2 separate regions of the Homo sapiens genome follow, and region 2 is linked to region 1. The links come from fine-mapping of genetic effects on gene expression. A gene starts in region 1. The other region holds a variant in brackets. All regions are shown on one strand. Distances are between the middles of the regions. Region 1 holds the start of ZDHHC18 (zDHHC palmitoyltransferase 18). Region 2 overlaps ZDHHC18 (zDHHC palmitoyltransferase 18).

Evidence for each region. PIP is the estimated chance that this variant, and not a neighbour inherited with it, causes the effect. A credible set is the group of variants that fine-mapping cannot tell apart.
Region 2: its variant is the best candidate, but not a certain one, in a credible set for the expression of ZDHHC18 in tibial nerve (GTEx, PIP 0.53).

The regions. Positions count from the first base shown.
Region 1 is chr1:26,817,968-26,833,137 of GRCh38, reverse strand. ZDHHC18 (zDHHC palmitoyltransferase 18) reads right to left here and starts at 6,450. Exons shown (of 8, transcript NM_032283.3): 1 at 5,999-6,450; 2 at 531-691. The coding sequence starts at 6,333. RefSeq lists silencers at 6,183-6,392, 6,403-6,552, 6,516-6,668.
Region 2 is chr1:26,845,308-26,860,477 of GRCh38, reverse strand. It overlaps ZDHHC18 (zDHHC palmitoyltransferase 18), which reads right to left. Exons shown (of 8, transcript NM_032283.3): 3 at 11,721-11,870; 4 at 10,040-10,177; 5 at 9,872-9,920; 6 at 9,247-9,349; 7 at 7,613-7,725; 8 at 2,874-6,752. The coding sequence ends at 6,635. Among named protein-coding and RNA genes, the nearest start is that of SFN, 10 kb to the left of the region's middle. RefSeq lists silencers at 5,326-5,498, 7,071-7,130 and an enhancer at 6,745-7,246. The variant T/G (reference allele first, on the strand shown) is at 6,881.

The DNA.
Region 1 (15,170 bases):
TGTTCACTGCTGTATCACATCTAGAAAAGTGCCTGGCACATAGTAGGGGGTCAATAAATGTTTGATGAGTGAATGAATAAGTGTATATGAATGTTTAAGAGCAGGTGCTCTAGACTGAGGTCTCATCTCAGCTCTTCTACTTACTTTGTGATCTTGGACCCTCTTTTGCCTTGATTTAATTAATCAGTAAAAGGAGAATGACAACAGTACCTACCTCATAGGATTACTGGGGGATTAAATAAGATCATGCATATAAAGAGCTTAAAACAGTGCCTAGCCCCCAGGAACTACTCAGCTCCACGCTGGCTGCCATCGGGGCCTTTGCTGGCTGGCCAGCATTTCTTGCTTACTTATTTGCTCACTTGTTGATCATCTGTCTCCCTCTGTGCCAGTGTCAGCTCCAGCCTGCCTTGCTCACGACTGCATCCCCAGTTCCTAGTATAGTTTTGGAAGAGAAAACCAGGCCTCCTCCCAAGTCAGGGAATGTGGAGCTATGGAGACCCAGCTTCAGCTGGGAGTAGAAACCTCACCGATCTGTTTCTCCAGGGCGGCTGCTTCACAGACAGTGGCCCGGGGCAGGATCCCAGGGTCGGTGAAGCTTGTCTGCAGCAGGCAGCTCATGACGAAGAAGAAGAGGATGGCAGCGATGATGGGGATGGCAAGGGTCAGCTTGCGAGCCAGGTAGGGACAGCTAGAACGAGAGATGGAGAGAGATCAGCAGACACCCCAAGGGCTCCCTGCGGCACAGGGCTACAGCACGTGGCAGGCGCTGTCATTCCAACAACCACCACCAAAATCTTGAATACAGCCTCGCTCTGAGGCAGAGGCACAGCTCCTTGATGAGTGCAGCCACTCCCCAATAAGTACCGGGAACAGACATCACTAATTGATCCTTGTGATATACTTTCCTCCAGAGCACATGGCAGATGTGTCCAATAGATCCCAGCACTCCTAACCTCTGCATCCAGAGAATCCCTCTACACACAGAGCTTCAGGCAGACACTAGTGGACTGTCACCTGAGACAAACCATCCTGCAGTGTTCATTCACTCATTCATTCACTCACTCAGTCCACAAATATTTACTGAGGTCTTCTCTGTGGCAGGCAACACCTTCAATAAGCAGCAGGAATAATGACGACGGATAAGACAAGAGTCCCTCCCCCTTGTGGCTTATGGTCTAGTGGGGAAAACAAGACATGTAAACAGGGAATTGCCACACAGGGTGATGTGTGCTCTAGTGGGGGAGGGGAACGCAGTAGCACAGTCAGGAAAGGCAACCTGAAGGAGACAATCCTAAGCTCCAACCTGAAGAATGAGTAGAGGGCTGGGGGAACTGCATGGTCCAGCCACTGTCACTGTGACCCAAGGTAGGCAGGTATCCCCAAGGCAGTGCTTTCAGACCCCCTGACCCTGGCTGCCTCAGAGAATAGCCTGTGCCTGCTGAATGGTCATGCCTCTGTCCCCCAGGGAGGCTGCCTACCACAGCCCTCTTCAAGCTCCCTCCTCCATCTTAGGGCTAGAACATTCTAGAAGTTCTGGACACTGGTGGGAGAATGGCTTCATGATAGTGAAGCTATCAGGGCTCTCTCTCTATGGCCAATCCTCTCTGTTGTCACCTCACTGTCCACCCAGAAGCCAGAGCCACTTTTGGAAATGTCAATCAGATCATGTCATTTCCCTGCTTAAAACCTCCCAATTGCTTTCCATATAGTTTGAATACAATCCAAACTCCCTACCATGGCCTTCTAGGCCAGGCATGATCTGGGCCCTACTGAGGACTTCAGCCTCATTCTACAAAACTCTCGTCTTGCTCCTGCTCCTCCCATCACAATAGCCCATGACAGTTCCTATAACAAGCCTGGCTCTCTCCTACCTCAGGGCCTTTGCACTTGCTGTTCCTTTTCTCAGATTCCTCTTCCCTCCTCAGAAGGACCTACCTTGACAACTCTGTACACAGTGAACTTCAATGCTCTTTCTTTCCTGTATAACATTTAGTATAGATTTCAGCTACTTGTCTATGTGATGGCTATTTTTCTCTCACTAAAACATAAGCTTGGCCAGGCGCAGTGGCTCACGCCTGCAATCCCAGCACTTTGGGAGGCTGAGGTGGGCGGATACCTGAGGTCAGGAGTTCGAGACCAGCCTGACCAATAAGATGAAACCCCATCTCTAATAAAAACAGAAAAATTAGCAGGGTGTGGTAGCATGTGCCTGTAATCCCAGCTACTCAGGAGGCTGAGACAGGAGAATCACTTGAACCCGGGAGGCAGAGGTTGCAGTGAGCCGAGATCGTGCCATTGCACTCCAGCCTAGGCAACAAGAGCAAAACTCTATCTCAACAACAACAACAACAACAACAACAACAAACAAACATAAAAAAACATAAGCTCCTCTGTGGGTATAGACTATGTTCTCTTGTTCAGCTTTATATTTCCAGCACACTGCACAGCACCTGGCACCAAGGACGTACCCGGTAAATAACTGCTGCCAGGGGACAGAAAAATAGCTACCATCTTTTGAAGGCTTACTATGTGCCAGACACTGCCCTAATTAATAAACTACTGTTAGCAACATCCAAAGTACAGATAGTTACTGTGCTATGTACAGATAGTTACTGTACTATGTAGATAGTTACTGTACTATCTACAGATAGTTACTGTACTACTGTACCTGGATGGGCCAGGTACCAGGCTAAGCAGTTCCTGTGTACTTTCTCATCAAATCCTCACTGGGACCCTGTGAAGTTATGCTCCCCACTTTACAGATGAAGAAACTAGAGCTCAGAGAGTTTAAGTAATCTGCCCAAGGTCACATGGCTCAGGAGTGCTAAAGTGGGACCCAAGCCAGGTCTGACTTTGAGGTTCATACTTTTAACCATCACCCCATAGCCAGAGTAGCACCTGATCAGGTAAGGAGATGACGGGGCCCTGGGAGGCCTGAGATCAACCAAGCTTCCAGGAGTGGCACAGTAGGCACACACCTGTGGGCACCTGCATGCTGCTTCTGAAGTCTCCGTCATCAGATGCTCTGGCCTTCAGAGAAGCCCTTCCCCTGAGGAGCAGACTGCCAAGGCCAAGGGCTCCCAGTGGGTCACACTCTGCTCCATACATCTCAATGGTTTCTGGGTCTGACCCTCAAACAGAACCAGTGGGCGCTCAGTGTCACCCACATGGCAATGAATCCAGTTCATATGCAATCAGACTTGTGTGGGGGGACAGAGAAGACTTGAAATCTAAGACTTGTAGAGCCTGCAGGAACCACCAAGTCCTAGCCTCCTGATTTGCCAGAGGCTAACAGCTCTCCCAGGCCCACAGCTAGGTTCAAGGTCATCTAGCCAGCCAATGACAGAACTAGGGTTTCCAGCCTCCCAGCAAATACACTGTCAATTAATTCAAATACACTGTCAATTCATTCATTCAATAAGTATTGAGCACCTACTGCATACCAGGTGCGAGTTCTAGGCACTAAGGGTGCAACAGAGGAGAATGTCCTGCTCTCATGGGCAAAGACCAGAAACTAACAAGTATACCATAATATGTCAGGTGGTGGCAAATGCTTCAGAGAGCGATAAATGAGGGGAGAAGAGAGGTGCAGGAGGGGAGTGGTTTGCTATGCTGTGCGGATGGACAGGGGAGGCCTAATGTGAGAGAGTGAGCCATGAGGCCACCTGCAGGAAGGGGATTCCAAGCACTGGCCCAGAGGTAGGAGTGTGCACGGAGGATGACATGCCTGGAGGGAAGACGGGGACAGAAGACAGCAGGGGACAGAGGCCAGGGAGGATTCAGGCCTGAGTTAGAATCAAAAGGGCACTCTGGCTGTTGTGTGGGGGCGAGAAGTAAGGCAGAAGTTGGGAGCCCTGCTGGAGGCCTGTGCAACAATCCACCAAGCCAAACAAAGAAGCAAAGCCATTCATAGCAGGAAAGGCTTAGAGAGCACCTTACCTTTTCCCAGAGCAATGGGGAGCATCCAGTCCAGACCCAGGTGAGCTCTCGGCCCAAACCCAAACTCTTCTGCCAATCTACCAGCCCCCAATGAGGACAAGCGGGGACAAACTGCAACATGGTTCACGAGCTCTCCCCAAACCCAGAAGTCCTTGCTTTCTCCCTCGCTGGGGACAAAACAGTCACCAGTGAAGATACCCGGTCAACCCAGAGAAGGTCCTGCTTCTAGTTCAGAAGTTAGGCCAGATATCACACTGCAGGGTCATGTGGGTCAACCACGGCAAGTACTGCTTCCTCCTGCCTCGGCTGCAGCCCTGGGTGTGGGGACTGAGAGGGCAGCCCAGGGGATACTAGAAAAGGCATTTCCAAAACACTCATGTGGCCAGCCCAGGGAAGTGGATCTGAAACTCAGCCCAGAGCTGAGCTCTGGGCCCCCCAGAGCTTCTGCTTGTAAATCATCCCTGAACTTTTTATCCACCCTACTCAAAAAAAAGGGCAGAGTGTGTGGTTAAAGGGTAAAGGGAGAAGCTAATTTATAGGAAGTCTTCACCTTGCTTCAAGGGGAAACCCAAAGTTGCAGATACATGATCTGGCAGCTAGAAAGGGTACCTGGGGGCGGGTGTCTCTATGATAGCCTTACCATGGCCACATGCCCTTGGGAAGTGTTTTTTGATAAAGACAACACAAGTACTAATAGCAGCCAACATAGTGTGCTTGTTACTGGGCTAAAAGCTTGCATGTGTGACCTCATGCCACCCTCAGGACAACCTTACGGGGTGGGTACTATTATAAATCCCATTTTACTGATGAGGAAACTGGGGCACTGAGGGGGTGAAGTGACTGCCCTGAGGTCACGCAATTAGTGGGTGGTGGAGCTGGGATTTGAACCAGGTCTGTTAGAGTTCTTAACTACACTGTATAATTAAGAGGAACAACCACAAAGGATGGGGAGTTGGGAGGGGACAGCAGGGCTTATGAAGCAAGGGTGGGTGGGTGGGCGTGTGAGTGTGTGTGCAAGGAATCACAGTGCAGGTGGCTCAGAGGTGGGTGGAAAACTTCTAATACAAATATATGACCCTCCATCCATAAAATGGAGATTATGTGTGGGCCAATCCTGGGTCACCGGGGGATATGAAGAGGACAAAAACCTAGGGGGGCAAATATGACCTGTCACACGAAAGCACTCCGAAGTCTTTCCTGAAAAACAACAAGGCACCGCAGCTGTTGCTGATGTGGAACAGGCCAGAGGGACGTTCCAGAATGTTGAGCAGGGAAAGAAAGCCAGGTGGTCAGCAGGGGGGCCAGGGGCCTGGGAGCCGGCTGGGTGGAGGCGGGCGGGATCTGAGGGAAGGACAGGAAGCTCTGGAGAACCTAAGGAAGGTTCTGGAGAAGGAAAGGGGGCCCGAGAGGCCCAAAGATTTTGAGAAAAGATGCCTTGGGGCCTAGGGTGTGCGTGGCTGAGGGGAAGCAAAAGCGGGGTTGGTGTCTGAGACTAGAGAAAAGGAGGGGACCCTGGAGGGACCCGGAGAGGGCAGCGAGGATGACTAGGATGTTTATGGTGGGTGTGCACAGCCAAAGGACACACAAGATCTAGAAGTGGTCAGGAAGGGATACAAGGGTCAGAAAGAACTTGGGGGGTTGGCAAGAGATGGTCCAGGGATGGGTGAGCAGGAGGGGCCTGTTCAAGAAGCCCTGGGGCAGGTTCTGAGAGGGCAGCGAGGATGGGGGCCGTGGAGGGGCATGGAGGCTGGTGTTCCTGGCAGTGGCAGGCAGACAGGTGCCAGGGTGGGGTCAGGGAGAATGGAGGGGCTGGGAGGGTGGAGGGCACCAGCGCGGATGGGGTACCCAAATGGACCAAGGAGGATGGGGCATCTGGCGGGGATGGGGGTGCGCAGGGGCCAGGGGGGCAGACAAGAGGCCCGAGGAGGATCCCAAAGGGGCGGGGAGGATGAGGACCAGGGAGGCGAAGGGGAAGGCACGGAGTGCCCAGCAGGGATTGGGAAGGTGGGGTGCGCGGCAGGGGGCTGGGAGGGGGCGCCGAGGCAGCGGAACTCACTCAAAGACGAAGAAGAGGCCGGTGGTGGTGAGGATGAGCAGCAGCGTGAGCGCGAAGACGCCGCCGTGGCCGGCCAGCATGAGGCGGCCGCCGCAGTAGAAGCGATTGCGACCCGGGAACACCTCCCACTTGCGCCGTGGGCGGCGGCCGAGGCTCCCGCTCCCGCTGCCGCTGCCGCTGCCGCTGCTGCTCCAGCGCGGCGGGGCGGGGGCGGCGGGCGGCGCGGGCCCGGGGCCCGGAGTCGGGGACGCGGCGGGGCCGGGACGGCGCGCCCCCGGGGAGGCGGGCAGCGGGGCGGCCCCGGGGCTGATCTGCTGGTACTCGCAGTCCTTCATGCAGCCAGCCGCGGGCCTCGGCTCCGCGCCCCGCGGGCCGGCCGGGCCACTCCGGGACCGGGCCGAGCAGCGGAGGTGGCAGCGGCGGCGCGCGCGGCGCTCGCTCGCTCACTCACTGGGGCGGCCCCGCCATCGCTCCGCCCCCGGCCCGCCGCCACCGCCCGCCGCGGCCTCCCGCCGCAGCGCCCCCTCCGCCTGGGCCCGGGATGGCGCTTGGCCGGAGGCCCAGCTCTGACCCGCGGCGGGGCCCCGCAGGTCCCCGGCCCTCCCAGTCTCCCTTTTCCCTTCTGCACAAAGAGGGGGCCAGCAGACGCGCACTCGAGGGCTCTTTCTGTTCTGCAAGCAAGCCGTTTGTTGGGCGTCCACTGTGTACCAGGCACGGTGCCAAACGCCGAGATTCAGGTGGTGGACTTCGTGATCTACTTCTGGCAGTCTGTAATTCCCCAGGCTTCGCCCATCTCTGAGGGTCGAACTGACAGGCATTTGCAGAGGCAGGCAGGCGCGGGGAGGTGGGGCACACGATTTGCTTTGAAAGCCAGGACCTCTTCTACCTTGAAGTCCAGAGTGCCCACTGGAGGTGTGTGGCACACCCTCTGGCCTCGTTCACCAAGTTCTGTGTCCTGGGCCCAGGCCCAGATTTTCCTAGGTAGCACATAATGTAGAGGGGTCATGCCTGAGGGCCCCAGTGTTTTTTCAGGAATTCTGGGAGTATTCATTTTCTACTGCTGTGTAACAAGTTACCACAAATTTAAGGCTTAAAACAAACATTATCGGCCGGGCGCGGTGTCTCACGCCTGTAATCCCAGCACTTTGGGAGGCCGAGGTGGGTGGATCACAAGGTCGAGAGAGACCATCCTGGCCAATATGGTGAAACCCCGTCTCTACTAAAAATAAAAAATTAGCTGGGCATGGTGGCACGGCATCTATAGTCCCAGCTACTCGGGAGGCTGAGGCAGGAGAATTGCTTGAACCCAGGAGGTGGAGGTTGCAGTGAGCCGAGATTGTGCCATTGCACCCGGCCTGGTGACAGAGCAAGACTCCGTCTCAAAAAAAACAAAAAACAAACGTTATCTAACAGGTTCCAGGTCAGGAGCCAGAGAACAGCTTAGCTGGGTCCTCTGCTTAGTCTCACAAGGCTGCAATCAGGCTGCATTCTCATCTGGAGACTCAGCCAGGGAAGAATCCACTTGCAAGCCCATTTGGGTTATTGGCAGAATTAACTTCCTTGCGACTGTTTAACTGAAGAGGGCCTGGGATTTTTGCTGGGTGACTGTATAACTGAGGAGGGCCTGGGATTTTTGCTGGGTGTCTGCTGGAGGCCTCTCTCAGGATCCAAAAGCCACCTGCAGTTCCTAGAGATTATCACATTTCCTTGCCATGCAGGTTTCTCCTACATAGCCACTTAGTTTCTTGAAACTGACAATGAGGGTCTCTAGCTCCAGACTATGATGATAGAGTTTTATATAACTTACTATATATGTGACAGAGTGGCATCCCATCATCATTGCCATCTCCTATGGTTAAAAGCAAAGCACAGGAGCCATCTGCACTCAAGAAAAGGGAATCACACAAGGCGTAAATACCAGGAGGCAGGAATCATTGGGGGTCAGCTTAGGGTATGTCTGTCACACTGTGGTTACTGTAAAACCTAAGGAAAAGTGCAAGGAAAAAAAGAACTGGAGACTAGGAGAAAGTAAAAAAGGAAGTAAAAATATACAATGGGGAGGAGTAGGAAGCCGACAACAGTGACCTTAAGGATCAATAATTGATATATATGCCAAAGGCTGCTCAGCCGTGCCTTTGGTGCCAAAGGCTCTCAATATGATGAGCCCCATCTTGAGCAAACCACATGGTGAGCTTCCTCCCTTTTTGCTCCTTGGCTGTGGAACAAAGTCACAAAACTAGACATACTGGTTCCAGTACAGATTCCTGTTGTCCCACCTTAACTGGGTCCTCTTGCAACCTGAAACCTTTTCTTTTTTCTCGTCACTTTACAGAAACCAAAGCAATCCTACTGGATTTTCAGTTTACCTCCTCTCTATCTCATAATTTCTCTTTATTTGCATCTGTCCTTTCTTCTTTTTTAGAAGATGTGGGCCTCCTTCTGTCCATGGCCAACCCTCCACTCATATCCTTATTTTATTTTATTTTTTATTTTTTTGAGATGGAGTTTCGCTCTTGTCACCCAGGCTGGAGTGCAATGGCATGACCTCGGCTCACTGCAACCTCTGCCTCCTGGGTTCAAGTGATTCTCCTGCCTCAGCCTCCCAAGTAGCTGGGATTACAGGCATGTGCCATCATGCCCGGCTAATTTTTGTATTTTTAATAGAGACGGGGTTTCACCATGTTGGCCAGGTTGGTCTCGAACTCCTGACCTCAGATGATCCGCCTGCCTCGGCCTCCCAAAGGGTTGAGATTACAGGTGTGAGCCACTGCACCTGGCCTCTTTTTTTTTTTTTTTTAAGTAAGGCTGATGGAACTCCATTTTATTTATTTATTTAAGCCCAATAGAACTCCAAACTCATGTCCTATCTCTCTTCCTGTTCATTAATACCGCAAACACATGCTCAATTCTACATCAATTAAAAAGCAAGGCTGGGCGCAGTGCTCACATCTATAATGTCAGCATTTTGGGAGGCCAAGGTGGGAGGATTGCTTGAACCCAGGAGTTCAAGACCAGCCTCAGCAACATTGCGAGATGCCACCTCTACAAAAATAATTAAAAATTAGCTGGACATGGTGGCATGCACCTGTAGTTCCAGCTACTTGGAAGGCTGTGGTGGGAGGTTTGCCTGAGTCCAGGAAGTCAAGGCTGCAGTGAGCTGTGATTACGCCACTGCACTCCAGCCTGGTGACAGAGCAAGACCCTGTCTAAAAAAAAAAAAAAAAAAAAAAGCCAGGCGTGGTGGCTCACATCCCAGCACTTTGGGAAGCCGAGGCGGGTGGATCACAAGGTCAGAAGTTCGAGAACAGCCTGGCCAACATGGTGAAACCTCATCTCTACTAAAAAAATACAAAAAATTAGCTGGGCATGGTGGCATGCGCCTGTAATCCCAGCTACTCGGGAGGCTGAGGCAGGAGAATTGCTTGAACCTGGGAGGCGGAGGTTGCAGTGACCCGAGATCATGCCATTGCACTCCAGCCTAGGCGACAGAGCAAGACTTCGTCTCGAGAAAAAAAGAAAAGAAAACCCTAAAAAACCCAATGGAGCTTCCCATGGTTGGCTACCTTCTCACCTTAGTTCAGATTTATCTTTCTCATTATCATTAGGATCATATTAAAGAGTTGCTACCAGGCAGGGCATGGTGGCACATGCCTGCCATCCCAGCACTTTGGGAAGCTGAGGCAGGCAGCTGGCTTCAGCTCAGGAGTTCGAGATCAGCCTGGGCATCATGGCAAAATCCCTCATCCCCTATGATTTCCTAACTTTTTACAAGTTGGCCCCTGTCTACATCACTCCCCTAAAACTTATCGTAAATGTCACCAATGAGCCATTTAATGTAGTATAAACCTCTTGTTCTCACCAATACCTATAGTTCCCGGCTTCTTTAACAGACAGATGTGGCCATGCGAATGAATTCTAGCTAGTGGAAGTGAAAGGTACTACTCCCAGGATGGCCCACAAATCTCCCAGGTGCTGATCCTTGCCCTCCTTCCTATCTGCTAGCAGAGTAGAGGAGATTCTGAGAACCTAGAAGAGGGTGGAGCCACAAGATGGAAGGAACTTGGGTCCCTGCATAATTGTGCAGAGCAGACCTTTCCTCTACTATGACTAACATATTAAACACTGAAGTGAGCAAGAAATACAGTTTTGTTATATAAGCCAATGAGTTTGAGAGGTTGTTTACTACAGCAATTAACTGATCCTTATTAATACAGAAAGTTGTATCAGGAGTGGGATGTCGATATAATAAAAACAAAAATATATGGCACTGAATTAATGGCCAGGCAGTGGATTACTGCCTGATCTTTAATTCAGTGCCATATACTAGATTAAGTAAACCAGGCTGGATGGCTGGAGATCTCTATTATGCTGTAGCAAAATATTTGGTAAAATTGTCATCTTCAATAATGTGGAAGGTAAATGCTATGCCCACTCACCCTGCAACTATAAGGGAAGGAGTTGGAAAGAATCAGAGTAGGATATGGTTGGCCACTGTTGGTGTCTGAATCAGTCAGACTCTAGTCAGGAGACAGAAACCATCCCAGTTGTTTGAACAGAAATAATTTAATATAAAGAATTGGCCAGGCACAGTGGTTCACGCTTGTAATCCCAACATTTTTGGGAGGCCAAGGCGGGAGGATCACAAGGTCAGGAGTTCGAGACCAGCCTGGCCAATGTAGTGAAACCCTGTCTCTACTAAAAATACAAAAATTAGCCAGGCATGGTGGCACACACCTCTAGTCTCAGCTACTCGGGAGGCTGAGGCAGGAGAATTGCCTGAACCCTGGAGGCAGAGGTTGTGGTGAGCTGAGATCGCGCCACTGCACTCCAGCCTGGGCAGCAGAGTGAGACTCTGTCTCAAAAAAAAAAAAAAAGAATTATTTGCAGCCTGGACAACATGGTGAAATCCTATCTCTATTAAAAAAAATACAAAAAAAAAAAATTAGCTGAACATGGTGGTGTGTGCCTGTGGTCCCAGTTACTCAGGAGGCTGAGGCAGAGGGACGGCTTGAGCCCAGCGGGGTGGACGTTGCAGTGAGCCATGATCACACCACTGCACTTCTAGCCTTGGCGACAGAGTGAGACCTTGTCTCAAAAAAAAAAAAAAAAAGAAAAGAAAAAAAGAAAAGAAATACTTGAACTGAGTTCCTTGAGCAAAATAAAATTATAAATAAATAATTGTCAATTTATATAAAAAGTAAGGGCTGGGCACAGTGGCTCACGCCTGTAATCCCACCACTTTGGAAGGCCAAGGTGGGAGTATTGCTTGAATCCAGGGGTTCAAGACCAGCCTGGGCAACATAGGGATACTATGTCCCTACAAAAAAATTTAAAAATTATCCAGACCTGGGCTGGGTGCAGTGGCTCACACCTGTAATCCCAGCACTTTGGGAGGCCGAGACAGGCGGATCACGAGGTCAGGAAATCAAGACCATCCTGGCTAACATAGTGAAACCCCGTCTCTACTAAAAATACAAAAAAATAGTTGGGCGTGGTGGTGGGCACCTGTAGTCCCAGCTACTCGGGAGGCTGAGGCAGGAGAATGGCGTGAACCCAGGAGGCGGAGCTTGCAGTGAGCCAAGATTGTGCCACTGCACTCCAGCCTGGGCGACAGAGCAAGACTCCATCTCAAAAAAAAAAAAAAATTATCCAGGCCTGGTGGTGTGCATCTGTAGTCCCAGCTGTTCAGGAGGCTGATGTGGGAAGATCACTTGAGCCCAGGATAACTGAAAGGTTACAGTATCGCAGAGGCAGTAACAGCAGGAAGCAGCTATGAACTCCTTGGCTGAGGGAACAAAGAAAATAGGTTGGAATTATTACAAATTAGAAGCTTAGAGCAGAAACTAAGGAAGAGGAAGAGTGCCAACCAGATTATGGTTTTTGTTTATTTTTTAAAGAGGTGGGGTCTTGCTATGTTGCCCAACCTAGAGGGCGGTGCCTATTTATAGGCATGACCTTAGCACACTACCAGCTTTGAACTCCTGGGCTCAAGCTATCCTTCCCCCTCAGCTTCCTGAGTGGCTGGTTCTATAGGTGCACACCACCGCATACAGCAATGCTGGTGTCTTTGAGGTGAGGCATGATAAACTTGGTTCTGCAATCAGAAATACCTGCAAACTAAAATCGGCTCTACTGCAGAAAAGTACTACTTCTGTCAGGGATGAAGGAGCACTGTTAGGTTCACTCATAGGAACTGAAAGTAATAGAAGGAGCCAATCTCTTCTTCCCTTCCAGCTCTGCGGTCTCCCTCTAGTGCCCCCTATTAGCAGAGCCAAACATAGATCTAGCTGGTAAAGCAGAAGTGTGTCTTGCAGAGCCCCAGCCTCAGTAACTCAAAGCTGAGTATAGACAGGCTGGTTTGGAGCTCAGGTAATAATATTGGGCACAGTCCACCTCTTTGGCTACTCAGTATCCACATGCACTTGCCTCTACATTATTATTATTATTATTTTTTGAGACTGAGTCTTGACGTATCTCCCAGGCTGGAGTGCAATGGCGCGATCTTGGCTCACTGCAACCTCTGCCTCCTGGGCTCAATTGATTCTCCTGCCTCAGCCTCCCAAGCAGCTGGTGCCCACCACCAAGCCCAGCTAATTTTTGTATTTTTAGTAGAGATGGGGTTTCACCATGTTGGCCAGGCTGGTCTTGAACTCCTAACCTCATGATCCGCCCACCTTGGCCTCCCACAGTACTGGGACTACGGGAGTGAGCCACCGCTCTTGGCCTGCCTCTACATTTTTGAACCTCCATATAACAAGGCAACTCCAGTCTTCCACCTAACAAAGTGCAACTATACAACTATCTTTTGTATAAGTACATTCTCACCCACTCCACCAAAATGAACAAATGTGGAATCTGTTTTTTGGAGACAGAGTCTTGCTCTGTCACTCAGGCTTGGAGTGTAGTGGCATGATCTCGGCTCACTGCAACCACTACATCCCAGGTTGAAGCGATTCTCCTGCCTCAGCCTCCCAAAAAGCTGGGACTACAAGCACACGCCACCATGCCCGGCTGACTTTTTTTTTTTTTTTAAGACAGTCTTGCTCTGTCACCCAGGCTGGAGTGCAGTGGCCCAATCTTGACTCACTGCAACCTCCACCTCCCGGGTTCAAGCGATTCTTCTGCCTCAGCCTCCTGAGTAGCTGGGACTACAGGCACGTGCCACCACACCCAGCTAATTTTTGTATTATTAGTAGAGACGGGGTTTCTCCATGTTGGTCACGTTGGTCTCAAACTCCTGACCTCAAGATCTGCCCGCCTCAGCCTCCAAGTGCTGGGATTACAGGCATGAGCCACCAACCGGCCTTTTTTTTTTTTTTTTTGGGATGAGTCTCGCTCTGTTGCCCAGGCTGGAGTGCAGTGGCGCGATCTTGGCTCACTGCAACTTCCACCTCCTGGGCTCAAGCAATTCTCTTCCCTCAGCCTCCCGAGCAGCTGGGATTACAGGCGTCCACCACCACACCCAGCTAATTTTTGTATTTTTAGTAGAGACGGGGTTTCAGCATGTTGGTCAGGCTGGTCTGGAACTCCTGACCTCAACTGATCTGCCCACCTCAGCCTCCCAAAGTGCTAGGATTACAGGCGTGAGCCACCTCGCCCAGCCAATTTTTTGTATATTTAGTAGAGATGGGGTTTTGCCATGTTGCCCAGGCTGGTCATGAACTCCTGAGCTCAGGCAATCTGCCCGCCTCAGCCTCCCAAAGTGCTAGGACTACAGGCATGAGCCACTGCGCCTCGCCAGAAATGCGGACTCTCAACAGTCATTCTATCTATCTCTGGGATATGTTTTTTTTTTTTTTTCCAAGGCAGAGGAATTTTTCTTAGTGCAGAACAAAATGAAAAGTCTCCCATGTCTACTTCTTTCTACACAGACACGGCAACCATCCGATTTCTCAATCTTTTCCCCACCTTTCCCGCCTTTCTATTCCACAAAGCCGCCATTGTCATCCTGGCCCGTTCTCAATGAGCTGTTGGGCACACCTCCCAGACGGGGTGGTGGCCGGGCAGAGGGGCTCCTCACTTCCCAGTAGGGGCGGCCGGGCAGAGGCGCCCCTCACCTCCCGGACGGGGCGGCTGGCCCGGCGGGGGGCTGACCCCCCAACCTCCCTCCCGGACGGGGCGGCTGGCCGGGCAGGGGGCCGACCCCCCCACCTCCCTCCCGGACGGGGCGGCTGGCCGGGCGGGGGGCCGACCCCCCCACCTCCCTCCCGGACGGGGCGGCTGGCCGGGCGGGGGGCCGACACCCCCACCTCCCTCCCGGACGGGGCGGCTGGCCGGGCGGGGGGCCGACACCCCCACCTCCCTCCCGGACGGGGCGGCTGGCCGGGCGGGGGGCCGACACCCCCACCTCCCTCCCGGACGGGGCGGCTGGCCGGGCGGGGGGCCGACCCCCCCACCTCCCTCCCGGACGGGGCGGCTGGCCGGGCGGGGGGCCGACACCCCCACCTCCCTCCCGGACGGGGCGGCTGGCCGGGCGGGGGGCCGACACCCCCACCTCCCTCCCTGATGGGGCGGCTGGCCGGGCAGAGGGGCTCCTCACTTCCCAGTAGGGGCGGCCGGGCAGAGTCGCCCCTCACCTCCCAGATGGGGCGGCTGGCCGGGCGGAGGGCTGACCCCCCCACCTCCCTCCCGGACAGGGCGGCTGGCCGGGCGGGGGGCTGATCCCCCAACCTCCCTCCCGGACGGGGCGGCTGGCCGGGCAGAGGGGCTCCTCACTTCCCAGTAGGGGCAGCTGGGCAGAGGCGCCCCTCACCTCCCAGACGGGGCGGCTGGCCGGGCGGAGGGCTGACCCCCCAACCTCCCTCCCGGACGGGGCGGCTGGCCAGGCGGGGGGCTGACCCCCCCACCTCCCTCCCGGACGGGGCGGCTGGCCGGGTGGGGGGGCTGACCCCCCCATCTCCCTCCCGGACGGGGTGGCTGGCCGGGCTGAGGGGCTCCTCACTTCCCAGTAGGGGTGGCCGGGCAGAGGCGCCCCTCACCTCCCGGACGGGGCGGCTGGCCGGGCGGGGGGCTGACCCCCCCACCTCCCTCCCGGACGGCACGGCTGGCCAGGCGGGGGGCTGACCCCCCCACCTCCCTCCCGGATGGGGCGGCTGGCCGGGCGGGGGGCTGACCCCCCCCCACCTCCCTCCCGGACGGGGTGGCTGCCGGGCGGAGACGCTCCTCATTTCCC
Region 2 (15,170 bases), 27 kb before region 1:
GTATCTTTGGAATCAGACTGCCTAAATGTAATTCTTATAGCTGTTTGTGGCCTTGGCCAAGTGATTTAAGCTCTGTGAGCCTCAGTTCCTGTAACTATAAAATGGGACTTGTGAGGATTACACGAGTTAATGGAAAGCACAGTAGAATGGATGGCAACTATTATTATTATTATTTTCTTTTTTTTGAGACGGAGTTTCGCTCTTGTCACCCAGGCTGGAGTGTAGTGGCACAATCTCAGCTCACTGCAACCTCCACCTCCTGGGTTCAAGTGATTCTCCTGCCTCAGCCTCCCGAGTAGCTGGGATTACAAGGGTGCACCACCACACCCAGCTAATTTTTGTATTTTTTTTTTTTTTAAGTAGAGATGTGGTTTCACCATGTTGGCCAGGCTGGTCTCGAACAGCTGACCTCAAGTGATCCACCTGCCTCAGCCTTCCAAAGTGCTGAAATTATAGGCATAAGCCACCATGCCCGGCCAGATGACAACTATTATTATCATGTGAAAAAATCCCGTCAACTTTATTATGATCAACATATACTCACAAAGCACTAACATAGAGTTAGGTTCTGTGAAATGAGGAAGGACCCCAAGCCAGGACTTAGCCAAAGGCCAGACCTTCCCAGCTGGGTGTCTACAGGGGAGAGGAAGCAGTTTGCCCATAGCCTTCTCTCTCCAGATGGATGAATGGCCAGATGTGCTCAGCACTGCCTCCTTCCTCTCCATCTAGGACAGGCGTGTCCAATCTTTTGGCTTCCCTGGGCCACATTGGAAGAATTGTCTTGGGCCACACATAAAATATACCAACACTACCAATAACTGATGAGCTAAAAAAAAAAAAAAATTTGCAAAAAAATCTCATAATGTTTTAAGAAAGTTTACTAATTTGTGTTGGGCTGCATTCAAAGCCATTCTGGGCCACATGCAGCCTGTGGGCCGTGGGTTGGACAAGCTTGATCTAGGATATTCCTGTGACCTCAGCAGGTCCTGGAACCTCAGGGGCCTTCATTTGTACTAGTCATCCAGCCGGGGCTTCCCCAAGTCCTGGGGAAAGCTGGAGATCCCAGGACACTGGGAACCTGGAAGGCAGGCCCAGGAACTTTGGAGCCTGAGTCCAGGGAGGGACCATTTGCTTCCCGCCACTTAAGCCAGAGGACCTGGTGGTGGTTCACGCCCTCCGCATAGCCATGAGCAAGGGCAAGGAAGCCCCTTCATTCCTACTCCTCCCCTGCTGGAGCTCAGGGGTGCATCTGGGAGCCAGGCTGCCTGATACCTCCTGCCCGCTCTGGCCTGTTGATCCTGACTCAGTTCCTGTCTCAGGTACCTCCCTTTGCCTCTGGGCCTCCATTTCCCAAGTTCAGGAGCTCAGACGGGCAGGAGGCAGCAGGCCCTGGCAGGGCATGGAGCTCCACAGTCAGCTGTCTGAGTCAGCAGGACAGGAGCTGGGGTTGCAGCTCAAAGGGGCTTTCCTCATTCTGCCTGCTACCTCCCCACCCTCCTGTACAGCATCCATTCTACCAGCAGGCTCAGGGGCTCTGGCCCCATAGTCAACCAATCCTTCTTAGCTGGTAATAATAGGCTTTGAAGGGTTGTGATGAAGAAAGCAGCAACCATTTGCTCTCTACCTCCACTGAGGACAGAGGACAGGGCTCTGATAGCAGTGGGAGGGACACCAGGTAGATTCTAGAAAGAACTTCCTAAGAAATGTTTCTGTCTTGGAATGATCAAATTAAACAGGTGGCCAGAGGAAGCTCTAGCACCTTTTCCCACTGGCTAGTTGTGAACAAGAGTCCAGTTACCTAGCCAAGAGCTTACTTTACTGGTTACCTTTGGGAAGGGATATTAAATTATTTTAATTATTTTTGTGGCTCCTTGTGGAGCAGGGCGACCCCATAGGCAGTGTGCCCAGAGTAGCTTACATTACTTTTAAGTGATTCGTAGTTCTGATTCTTTTTCTCTTGAAGGCACTGCTGTTTAGAGTATCCCACATCTAAACCAGTCCAGTCTAGAGACAGTGCAGAATTTATGGAGAGAGAATGGAATGAGGTCAGAGTGTGGGACTGCATCCCAGCTCTGTTATAAGGCCTTGGGCAGGTCCCTTCCTGCCTCTGGGCTTCAATTTCTCCATCAGTAAAACAAGGAGGCTGGCCCAGATCAACTCTAAGCCCTCTACTGGCTATGACATTCTCTAATTTTAGGGTTTCTCCAAGATCTCATCCTCCCACCGCTGTATTCATTCCTTGGGTAGTGCAGATGGCTCAGAGCTCGGGGCAGAGATCAGGTTCCGATCTGGGATTTGCTGCTTTGCCAGCTGGGTGACCTTGGGCAGCTCCTGTTTCTTCCTTGAGTCTCAGTTCCCTCATCTGTAAAAAGGCTGACATCATCCTCCTCACAGGTTAAGATGAGAAAATGGGCCCGGGACTCGGCAAGCCCTTGCTGAACGGTAGCGGTAGCTATTTTTTTAGCCCATAGTACAGTGTATGCACATGTGTGTATCTTGATGTAGTGCAGCAACTGGGGAGAGAGAAGTTTCCATGAGATCGTTACCCTGGGCTGGGCTCAGTTCATGGGTATGGCAGTCCCAAACTGGAGTTAAACCCTCTGTCTCAGCCTGCACTGGGACCTATCAGAATCCAGAGGTCAGCTAAGGCTGGGTGGTGTCTGGAATTGAGACCAAGAGTTCTGGAGGGGCAGAGTGAAAAGGATGTCAGCCACTTTTCCTGTGTCCCTCCTGGCTTCGTTGTGCTTGTAAATCTCCAGAGCAGCACTGGCCAGCTGGAAGAAAGCTGGGAGCGAGGGGGAGCCATATGTTCCACACGCCCACTGCAGGTCCCATCCCTGGGCCCCAAAGTAAAGGCGCCACCAGACAGCCAATGGTATGGCAAGAAGAGGGGAATCTTTATTTTGGTTAAAAAAAAAAAAGGTACAGGATAGCAGACAAGCAGCCCCCAGCCCTGGGCTCAGCTGATTTTCCTTGGCTCAGCTCTTTCCTTTAGTCCCCTGAAGTGTATGGGGCTGTGCACGGCTAGCTTGGTCCCTCAGTGCCTAGAGCAAAGGAGGCACGCACCCTCCCTACATCCTACCTACTCTGGTGGAGGGTTGGGGGTGGGAGGTGGACAGGCCGTGGGAACAGTATCAAGCCAGTTGTGCTTAGAACAGTCACCAAACTTGTTCAGCAGCGTCATCCACCATCAACACCCCAGACAGCTCCTGAGGAAACCTGCTGGGCTTGACTATGGCTATGCCTGATCTGAGGGGGTGGAGGGGCAGGCTCTAAGGCCAGATTCCTAGTCTTGACACCTCACAAATCCGGGAAGGGGAAGTCAGTGGAGGAGAGAGGGAGCATATCAGCGTAGAGTCACATTATTGTGCTGATGGCTGCGTTATGGCTTTCTACACTCTGGCCGGCATGGAGCGGGAATGGGGCAAAGAGGCCAGCCCCTGCCCCCTATGGGGGTCCTAGAGAGCACACAGGCCGGGCAGGCTGGGGGGCAGACCCTGTAGGCACAGATGGTGGCAGATGGGCCACAGGTTAGGCAGGTGGAGGTGCCGGGTGCCTGGCTCCCCCCAGGCCATTCCTGGAGAGGCAGAGAGCAGCGGTCCTCAGGAGGTCCTTAAGCCCCCGCACACACTGGAGATCCCCGGCAGGACAGCAAAGAAGGAGAAGAGAGAGGGTTAGCAGGCCTGGGAGGAGGGAGGCGGCCTGCAGGGGCCCCGGTGGTGGGGAGAGGTGCTGCCACAGCACCTGCCTCTGCCCGAGAGAAGGGCCAAGGCTTAGGCAGCAGGCAATGAAGCAGGAGAGAAAACGGGCGGGTGAGAGAAAGCTCAGCGGGGACAGAAAGCCAGGACATAAGAGTGTTAGTGACCGGTGGCCCCTGCATACCAGGACCCCACCAGCACAGACCCAAGCACCTCAGGGCAGGTTCGCCATCCTCTCCCCAGCCTCACCCTCCACCTCCTCTTCCAGCTGGAGAGCTGCTCTGCGAGAAGCTACTTCCTCAGTCCACAATGGGGCTGGGCTTTTAGCCTTGCCCTATATCCCGATCCTTCTGCTTAGCGGGGAGTCCCTGGAGACCCTACCACCACCAGCACACACACCGCACCACACACCAGACAGATGGACGGGCTCCATGGGGTTGGCGAGGCATGCGATGAGGATGAGATGGTGTGTGAGGGGAGCGGGCAGTGCTGGCCGACAGGGAAGAAACGGTCTTACCAGCTAACCCTCTGCAAAGAGGCCTGTTAGCTCCCCTCAGGCTGTGCAGGAGATGGCAAAATCCTGACAGGTGTCCTCCTGAGGGAGATACCAGAGAGGTGGGCCAGTGTTATGAGTTGTCTGGCTGGGCCCTGGTGCCCAGGTTGGAGGTGGTAGCCAGGGAAGCTCCGGCTCTCAAACTGGAATCTACTGTCTCAAACATTTTCTTAGCTGGGCACTCATTGGGGATCGGAGTGGAAAGGCAGTAGGGAAGAAGAATTTGGGGGTCTCCAAGCCCCTGAGGCAGGGGAAGGTGGAGGGGACAAAGAGGGGACAGGATGGCCTCTTTTCACGTGCCCATGGGGGCTCAGCCGCAGCCCTCTCTGCTCTTCCTCCAGCGGACAGAGCTCCAGCCAGGTGAGGGAAAATGTAGCCAGATCACTGGGCTGCCTGCCTTCTCACAGTCTCCCCAGGAAAGAACCAAATTTGTCTGAAAGAACAGAGGGCTCCCAGTTGGGGCCTCAGCAAAGGAAAAGCAAACAAAAACCAAACCAAAGCAAAGCAACTCTTATAAACTGAAGTTTTATTACAAGCAGGAACAAAGAATACTGGCTTAAATAAAAGGTAGGTGGGAGCCCCCTCCTCTAGCCAGCTTCTTCCTCACCTCCCAGGGCCACTGCAGTGATGGCCCAGGGCCCTGAGGCTGGGGTGAAGCTGTTTCTCCCAGAGGGGACCCTCTGTGGCTGCCATTCCCAGCTGTCTGTGACCACTAGCCTCTGGAGTGAGAAGGGCAAGATCTGGGGACTTCCTATGTCACTTTCCAAGGGCTTCAGCCCACTTGAAGGGCCAAGGAGGGGGATGGTGGAACAATATCTATTTTGATAAGAAACTACAGCTCCCAGCAGAGGAGAAACATCCTCTGAGTTTCCGGCCCAGACTCAGGCCAACCTTCACTTGCCTCTTGGCCCACCCTGCACCTTCTTCCTTTTCTCTGGATGGAGGTCCCCGTTTGGCAGAAACACCTTGTCTTCCAGCTCCTGGCACTGGGTCCCATATTCAGAGCTCAGAGGAGGGGGTGTGGCTTGTAGGATGGCAGCCGCTCCCCAGAGCCATCACCCCACCCACCACGCCCAGGCTCAGCCTGTCTGGGCAGGTCCCAGCTGGAAGCCTCACCTGGGGGCTGGTGGGTAGGGCTGGGGGTAGAGTGGCAGAGTCCCCAGACACTGGCTGTCTGAAGTCCATAGAAGAAGGAAAGATAGGAGGCTGGGCTGAGCCCCAGTGGGAGCCCAGGGTTTTCTCGTGACCAGTGCACGTGCCCCCTGTCCCCTTGGCTCAGAGTGCTTCTGACACTCAAAGGGGATGGGGCAGGGGGCAGCCCAGGGGATATGGGAGCCAGCCACATTCATACAGGGCACACATGAACACACACACACATGCACACACACTCTCACTCATTCCAGCCAGAAGGTCTCTTGGAATAAACTTATTAAAACCAACCAGCCTTCTGATAACCCTTCACCTGGCACTACACAGACAGTAATGTGGCTGACATTTTCTCCTTCCATTTAAAAAAGACTATGTAGAAAAGAGGTCTATAAAATTGTGCAAAATACCCAGCATTAATAAACCCGTTTCAAGTATTGCCAGCATGAGCATAACCCACCCATGCCGGGACCTGGCTTGGGAGAGAAGTGGAGGGGCAGGCTGGGATCCCTTAAAGAGCTCTCCATGGGCAGGGGAAGGACCAGGCTCCCACTTCCACTGTGCTGCCCAGGAACTGCACAGGAGCTGAGGCTGTGGGTGCCTGGCTGGCTGATTTACCTTTGTCTGATACAGGCTGCCCCCACCCACCACCAACCCTGCCTTCTCTACTGGAGCCCCAACTCAATCCTATTGGCCAACTCCATAAAAAAGGGGGGAAAACCCCACCAAAAATCCCACAGAATAAAGGGAAATTATCACCAAGGGAATGAAGGAGCCCACAGACCAAAGCAGCCCATGGAGGCTTCCTCTCCACAGCCAGCTATCCAGAGCTGGCCACTCCTCAGTCCTGCTTCACCCTGAGGACCCTGGCTCAGCAAGGCCCAAGCAGTTCCCCCACCTGGGAGGCCTCACGCTCAGTTCACAGCCTCACTCACACAGGGCTCGCCCGGCACAGGCAAGGACTTGGTGTGGTCCCCTGGGTAGCCTCCAGAGGCTCTGGTCTCTCCTGGCACTGATCAGCTGGGGTACCTAGGGCCCAAGGCTGTGGGAACCTGGGTTTGGGGAGCAGAGGGCACAGCCACGGAACAGTTCAGGGAAAGCCACGCAGGATGGGAAATAAATATGAAAAGACTTGAGTCTTTGGCAGTTCTGCTTCCCTTGGATGGAATAGGGAGGGTCCCGGCAGGTGAGTGCGGAGGGTCAGACAGGCCAGCAGGTGGCAAGTACTGAGCCGTGGTCAGGGGTGGCCTCCTACCATGCTGGCATCAGGCTTGGCTCTGCAGGCTGGCTCATCGCTTCTGATGGGTGAGGGCAACACGGTGTCGGACTGCACAAATCCCCTCCGGTCAATTAGGCTTCCAAAACACAAGGGAGACACATGAGGGCTCTGCCCAACACTGAGGCTCTAGGCCAGGGGTTGGACGGCAGAGTCTATCTCAGCCAAGGAAAGGCCCAGGCTGAGAAAGGCTGAGGAAAGGAGAGC[T/G]GCTGCCCATCTGGGGGCCCAAGACTCTTACCTCTGGCAGGCCTCTCTCTGCCCTCTGGCCACCTGGCTTTTGGCCACAGAATTTATTCACTATTAATTCCAACTGGCCCACCTGTCTGGCTGCCAAGAAGCCAGGCTGCAGGTGAGGGAGGAAAGCAAGGATGAATAGGTATTTGATGACTATGAAATTCCTATGTTCCCTTCCCCTCTAGGCAGGCTGGGTGACAGGGATACTGGGTGGGGTAGGTGACATGACTGTGTGGGAATGACTTGTCTTAGCAGTACCCACAGCAATGTAATCCCCGTTCTGGAACTCTGGTGCCCCCTGGTGTCAGGATGAACAGGGAGTGACCCAGCAGGGCTGAGTCCCCAGGGTTCCTACTGCCAGGAGAGGATGGAGTCGCCACCCAGTCCAGGCAGTGGGCAACCGGAAGGGCAGTGTCATTCAAACATGGCTGAAACAGTCATGGTGGCTACCCCCGGGGAGTAGAATTACATGTCATATCCAATGCTCCTCTGTTTTACGTTTTGTACTTAATTTTTTTTTTCTACAATGAGCACGTGATTAAATAACAATTCTCCATGGAATTCCGTCACATGACAAATGCCCTCCAGGGGGTAGTGGACGGAGGGCATCTAGGGTGTAGGGGGAGGTCGGCTGATATCCAGGAACACTTTGATCACTGGCCAGGCATGGCCCTGTTACCCCTCTTCCGCACCCCGCTCACTTACCTGGGAGGTAGGGGGCCACAGAGCACAGCACAGCAGTTGGTGATAATACTTTTATGGCTGTAGGGGTTGACAGAGGCCTCACCGCCCCTCTTGCTGGACCACGAGCCTTTGATCTGCAAGCAGGAAGGAGGCCTAGGTCAAGTACCTCCTTTTGCTTCACTTTTCTAGGAGGCAGGTCTAGAGGCTGGGGACAACTGGACAATTCCGAAACCAATTCTGGTTACAGAAGGCGACATGTCTTTCATGTGGGCCATTCAATGAGAATGTGGGGGACCCCTGGCAGAGATCAGGAGGCCCCAAAGAGGAGATGACAGAGCAGAGCCCAAGAGAAGCATCCAGAGGAAACGTTTCGGATGACTCCTCCCTTCTCCGGCCAGCCACTTCTGAAGGAGGGTAGCGCAGGGGCACAGGGTGAGGGCTGACCTGCCTGTGAGCCCCGGCCCTGCTACTCACTGGCTACGTTACCTGGACAGATCACCACTTCGCTGAGCCTGAGTCCTCATTTGGAAAACAGGGAAAATAATACTAATTCTCAGATGACATTGCTAGGGCATTAGATTAATTCTTGCCAGATTCTCTAGCTCTGTGAAGTCAGCTATGGAAGGCACTGGAGAGTTTAGCAATAAAGAATACCTTGACTTTAACCTAGAGTTTTCTACACTTATTTGGCCACACACTCCTTTCTCTTTAACCTCTGGTAATGTGCTGCAGAACTGGCACCCAAGAAGCTACTGCGGGAGATACTGGCTGATGGCATTTCTGTTCTCACTGATCACCAGGCACACAACGCCCTGTCATGTGTGAAGTTTTGTTTCCCTGAATGAGAGGATGAGGTCTGGGAATGTATTTTCTGTTGGAGGATGGGTTGCTGGTAAGTATCAGATGGTGGGCCCTGAAACAGATGCTCTCATTTACTTTTTAGTGTTTGGAGGATGGGGAGGAGAAGTCAGGTCTGGCCTAGGACTGGGCACATCAAACATGCTTGTTGATGGCAGTCTGCAGGGTGGCAGGCAGGGAAGGTCAATGGAGCCCACTGGCCTGTGCCCTGTCTCCCCCAGGCGTGCATATTGAGAGGGGCAGCCAGGACAGGCCAGTGCCACCTTGAGAATAGTCACGGCTTTGCTGCTGACAGGGGCAGTGTGGAAGAGGGAGCGCATACCTGTGACTGGGCACCAACCTTGGCTCTGTCCCCTCCCAGCTGTGTGACCTCTCAGACATGGGACATGTCTCTCAGTCATCGAATGGGGAAAAAACATCCCTGTCCTTTCTGCCTCAGGCTTGGCAAAAGGACCCAAAGAAATGACGGGAACTGAAAGAATTCTGTAAGCGGTCATGTGCCAGCCAAACATCATGCGTGCTGTGGTGTGAGTACTGCCTCCTGCAGGGCTGTGGAGAAAAGCAACCTGGGACCTTGGGAGCCTGCACTGAGAGAATGAAGCATGTGGAGGTGTCAGAAGCCTGCATCGGACCCACCAGGGCCAAGCTGAGATGACTGGGAGGCATCTGGCTGCTTAAAAGGCATTATCCCAGCAGTCCGTGAGTCAGGACTGTGCTTGGCTGCCCCAGGCTCCCTCAGCCCTGCCTCCTCCTGAGGGCGCTGCCCTAGAATGAGGGGTGGCTCCAGGTTTACTCACGTCTTCATTAGTAGTCAGGTTGGAGGCGACGAGGTACGTGTGAAACCCTGAGAGGCCCAGAATGGACCAGATGGAGAAGAAGCAGATCACCAACTCCAGCACGGTGAGGGCAGTTAAGGACTTCAATGGGTGGAGGGTGGGGAGCCTCCCAGCCACACCTGGCCTGTCTCACCTATCCTTCCATGGAGCTGTTTCCCCAGAGAGCTGAGAAGTTTTGGAACCTTCCTGTGGCCCAGTCCCCACTTCTTAGCAGGATCACCTCCTGGGCCCCTCGGAAGGGTCAGGACCCCACTCAAGAGCCAGACAAGGTCAGGGTGATGGACGGCAGAGAAAACTGAGGGTTCCAATCACAAAGAGCCTTGGGCACGACACGGTCCAGGGAGCTTGGCATCTTAAGGGACATACTCTTTTCCAGGCCCCTGAAGACGAGGAACCCCCGGCCCCACAATGCCCCATTTAGGATCAGCTCTTGCCTGGGTGTGAACAGAAGAGCTGGCATGTTGGATTCTGGAGGACACATGTGAGCTGTACGCTGTTCCCTTCTGATTAGAGGATGAGGCAGGGCACCCACCCAGTGAAGGGACCTCAGTTCCCACTGGAGTGTCCTCTAGCTGACAAAGGATATCTTGCTGGTGTCTCCTTCAGAGTGGAGAGGAAGTTGCTTCCCTGAGCGCCTGGGGAGAAAGAAACAGGAGAGGACAAGCTCAGAGGGACAGTGACTGCTGAAGCTTGCTGACCCTTGAGCTTGCTGGCTGACCCCTTCCACTCCCCACTGCCCTCACCCACAACTCACGCAACGTCAGGTGGGTGACCACACAGGCGAAGATGAAGGCCGTCAGGAATGAGAGGGAGAGAATAAACGCGTAGAAGAAGCGATAGTTCCGTCTCCCCACACAGTTGCCCACCCAGGGGCAGTGATGGTCAAATCGTTCTGGACAAGGGCAAGGGGCGATGGGTTAGTGTGGGCTGGCCTGCAGCCAGCACAGGCATTTGGCGGCCTCACCCATGGCTGGGGCTTTCCTACCCCGTTCACTCTCGCAGCACCAGCTGGCTCCCAGGCCTTGGACACACCTGCCTCTGGTCCTTTGTGTACCAGTTCCCACTGCCTGATACATTCTCTCGTCTCTTTACCTGGTTAACTGGAACTTCTCCTTCGCGTCTCAGCTGCAAAGCCACCTCCTTAAGAAAGTCTCTTCCAATCCCAGACTAGGGGAGGGGGCCCCTGTTATCTGCCCCATCACTTCTCTTTTGTCACACTCTGCCCATGTGTGTTTTTATGCTTATTTATAATAACTGGATTGGCCAATCAGCCCTACTTGACTGTAAGCTCCATGGGCGAGGGGGGCTGTGCTGGTCTTACACCATGCTGACTCCCCAGGATCCAGAGCAGTGCCGGCACAAAGACTCACAAAAATACTTGTCACCTGGTCTACCATCCCAACCACATGCTAACAGTCAACAACCCGTCTCCTGCTCTAGGACTAGCGGCCCAGGGAGGGGCTGAGCTGCAATGGGGTTCACAGCCAGCCAGCATCACAGGCCAGGTCAAAGGGCTGAGCTCACCTGCACACTGTCCCCGGGGGTGGAGGCACACCCAGACTGGTAAAGAAAGTCCTTGTGGGAATGTGGGTCACAAGCCCATTGCAGGCCTCATGCCAAGGCCAGTGCCCTTTGCACGGCGTGGGCGGGGCAGCTCCTTGGGGATGAATGGTGCCCACTGAGTCACCCCCTTCACTGCATGCCGTCACGGGGGGGTGTTCCCTGCTGTTCTCTTGCTTAGGGAGTACTGAGCTGGCATGATGAGCTCACTGCCCTGGGAACTATGCACAGTCACTGTGGCTCAGCTCACCTGGGCCCTCTCATGCATTATTTCCCTTACAACACCCTCTCAGGGTGCCCATCAGAACTACACAGCCTCTGGAGAGCAGGGAGAGGGGACAAAACAACCACTGCAGGCAGCTGTAGGGTCAGGAGCCATTTCCAGTGGTGACATCCTCTGCACCTCATCAGCTTAAACGCCTCTGTTGCTAGATGCTTTTCCCTCTCAACTCTGGGAATCAGATCAAAGTTTTTCAGTACAGCTGGCCCTGGGCCACTGGACAGTAACTCATTCTTTCTGGCCCAAACACATCTGGAATGTTATTGTTCCAGTCTGTTTCCTGGGAGCTTGGACCTCTTGAGGACCGGGCTGAAGCCTGGGAGAAGGGTTCAAAGCCTGTCTGTCTGCCCCACACCTCAGAGCTGGGGGAAGGAATCCACCAATCCTGAGCTGAAGCCAAAACACTCCTGGTTATGCTGAGGGCCCCTCCCCTGGGCCCTCCTGAGTCAGGGCAAATCTGGGTGAACCAGACCCCCTGCCCAGCCCTGGGTATTTCAGACCCTGCCCACGCCATCCCCATGCTTGATGCCCCCCATCCCCACGACTCAGTCTCTCTCAGGAATCCCTGCATCCCTCCCTGCTGCCTCCTACTCACCCACACAGTTGTCGCAGACACTGCAGTGTGAGGTTCGGGGTGGCCGGAACATCTTGCAGGTGAAGCAGTACTTCAGCTTCACCATCTGCCCGTTGATCAGCACCTCCCGGGTCCGAGGGGGTGGCCGGTATGTAGAACTGCCTGTGTTGTCTGAGGGAAGGAGGAGAGAAAGATGGGGAATGCCCAAGGCAGCCCAGGGCCCGGATCCCCAGCAGGGGAAAGCTACTGCTGCCTGGCCAGTCCAGGAGAAGCCTCAGGGTAACAGGTTCCCAGGAACAAACATTGGAGTAAAATGTCTGGCCTAAGGCAGGGACAAATATTAGGAACTGCCACCATGTACTGAGACTGCCTCTGTTCATACACCTGCCGGCCTTACCCACTCTAAGAAGGGCTGTCAGAGAAGGAGACTCCCAGAAAGCTTAGTGAGGGTTTTTTTTTTTTTCCTGAGGCAGAGTCTCACTCTGTCGCCCAGGCTGGAGTACAGTGGCGTGAATCTCAGCTCACTGCAACCTCCACCTCGCAGGTTCAAGCGATTCTCATGCCTCAGCCTCCCGAGTAGCTGGGATTACAGGAGTGTGCCACCACGCCCAGCTAATTTTTGTATTTTTAGTAGAGACAGAGTTTCACCACGTTGGCCAGGCTGGTCTGAACTCCTGACCTCAGGTGATCTGCCCACCTTGGCTTCCCAAACAGCCAGGATTATAGGAGTGATGCACCGCGCCCAGCCAGTGAGGTTTATTTGCATCTCATCAAGCCTAGACCTATGTCCCAGTTTACAGGAGGTTCAGGAGATGGAGGAACAAAGTGAGTAACACAATGAGGAAAAAGTCAGATCTAGAATATGAGACATTTACAAGACTGCTGGCCTGATCTCTAACAAAAGTCAATGTCATTTATAAAAAGAGAGAGGAGGTCGGGTGCAGTAGCTCACACCTGTAATCCCAGCACTTTGGGAGGCTGAGGAGTGAGGATCACTTGAGCCCAGGGGGTGAAGGCTGCAGTGAGTCAAGATCACGCCACTGCACTCCAGCCTGGGCAACAAAGCCAGAACCTGTCTTAAAAAAAAAAGAGAGAGAGAGAAAGAGAGGCAGAGAGGAGATGATTCTAAATTAAAAGCGATTTAAGAGACATAAACAAATGCAATACATCATGGATCTTATTTTGAAAAACAAAACAAAACACAGCAACAAAAGACATTTGGAGGGCAACTGTGGAAATCTGACTACAGATTAAAAACTACGAAACAGGCCGAATGCAGTGGCTCATGCCTGTAGTCCCAGCACCTTGGGAGGCCAAGATGGGAGGACTGCTTGAGCCCAGGAGTTCAAGATGAGCCTGGGCAAATAGGAAGACCCTATCTCTATAAAAAATGACAAAAATTAGCCGGGTATGACGGCGTGTGACTATAGTCCCAGCTACTAAGGAGGCTGAGGTGGGAGGATCATTTGAGCCCAGGAGTTCCAGGCTGCAGTGAGCATGAGCCAGGATCACTCCATTGCACTCTAGCCAGGGTGACAGAGCAAGACCCTGTCTCTAAAAACAAACAAAAATTAGGGAACAATTGGCCAGGTGTGGTGGCTCACATCTGTAACCCCAGCACTTTGGGGGGCCGAGGCGGGCGGATCATGAGGTCAGGAGATCGAGACCATCCTGACCAACACGGTGAAACCCCGTCTCTACTAAAAATACAAAAAATTAACCGGTTGTGGTGGCGTGTGCCTGTAGTCCCAGCTACTCGGGAGGCTGAGGCAGGAGAATCGCTTGAACCCGGGAGGCGGAGCTTGCAGTGAGCCGAGATCATGCCACTGCACTCCAGCCTGGGCGACGGTGGGAGACTCTGTCTCGAAAAAAAAAAAAATTAGGAACAATGAATTTTCTTAGGTATGATAATGGAATTGTGATTATGTAGGAGATTATCCTTAGATTTTTAAGACATATGTTGAAATATTTATAGGTAAAGTATCTATGATGTCTATAATTTACTATGAAATAGTTTGAGAAGAACAAACATATATATGCAAATAAGATGCACTATCAACTACTATTCAATCTAGATGGTGAATGTACAGGAATTAGTTGTACTATAATCCTTCCTGCTTTTTCTGTGTGTTTGAAATTTTCATAATAAGAAATTTAAGGCTGGGCATGGTGGCTCACGCCTGTAATCCCAGCACTTTGGGAGGCCGAGGCAGGCGGATCATGAGGTCAGGAGACCATCCTGATTAACACAGTGAAACCCCGTCTCTACTAAAAATACAAAAAAATCAGCCGGGCATGGTGGCGGGCGCCTGTAGTCCCAGCTACTCGGGAGGCTGAGGCAGGAGAATGGCGTCAACCCGGGAGGCAGAGCTTGCAGTGAGCCGAGATTGGGCCACTGCACTCCAGCCTGGGAGACAGAGCGAGACTCTGCCTCAAAAAAAAAAAAAAAAAAAAAAAAAAAAAAAAAATATATATATATATATATATACACACACACACACACACATATATCTCTATAGAGATATATATCTATATATCTCTCTCTCTATATACACATATATATGTATATACGTGTATATATGTATGTATATAGATATATGTGTATATATAGACATATATACATGTATATATATACACACATATATATACACACACATATATATATACACACACACAAAAGAAATTTAAGAGAAAAAAAGGCAGAGATATAGCATATTCATGGATTGGAAGACTGAATATTATGAAAGGATTTATTCTCCCTAATCCACAGATTCAACATAATCCTAGTCAAAAATCCCAGTAGGTTGTTTTTGTGAAAATTGACAAACTCATTCCAAAACTCATATGGAGGTGGCTGGGCATGGTTGCTCATGCCTGTGGTCCCAGCTTCTCAGGAGGCTGAGGCAGGAGGATTGCCTGAGCTCAGGAGTTTGGGGCTGCAGTGAGCCATGATTGTGCCACTGTACTCCAGCCTTTCCAACAGAACAAGACCCTGTCTCAAACAAACAAAAGACACAAAGGGGCTAATCATAAAAGAGCAATTTGATAAACTGCATTATATCAAAATTAAATTTTTTTTTCATTTAAAGGTAATCATTAAGAGAATGAAGAGTTTTTTGGGGCTGGATGATTAAAAAAAAGAATGAGGCCGGGCGCGGTGGCTCAAGCCTGTAATCCCAGCAATTTGGGAGGCTAAGGCAGGCAGATCACCTGAGGTTGGGAGTTCGATACCAGCCTGGCCAACATGGTGAAATCCCATCTTTACTAAAAATACAAAAATTAGCTGGGTGTGGTGGTGGGCGCCTGTAATCCCAGCTACTCAAGAGGCTGAGGCATGAAAATCACTTGAACCAGGGAGGTGGGGGTTACAGTGAGCTGAAATCATGCCACTGCACTCCAGCCTGGGTGACAGAGAGAGACTGTCTCAAAAAAAAAAAAAAAAAAAAAAAAAAAAAAAAGAATGAAGAAGTA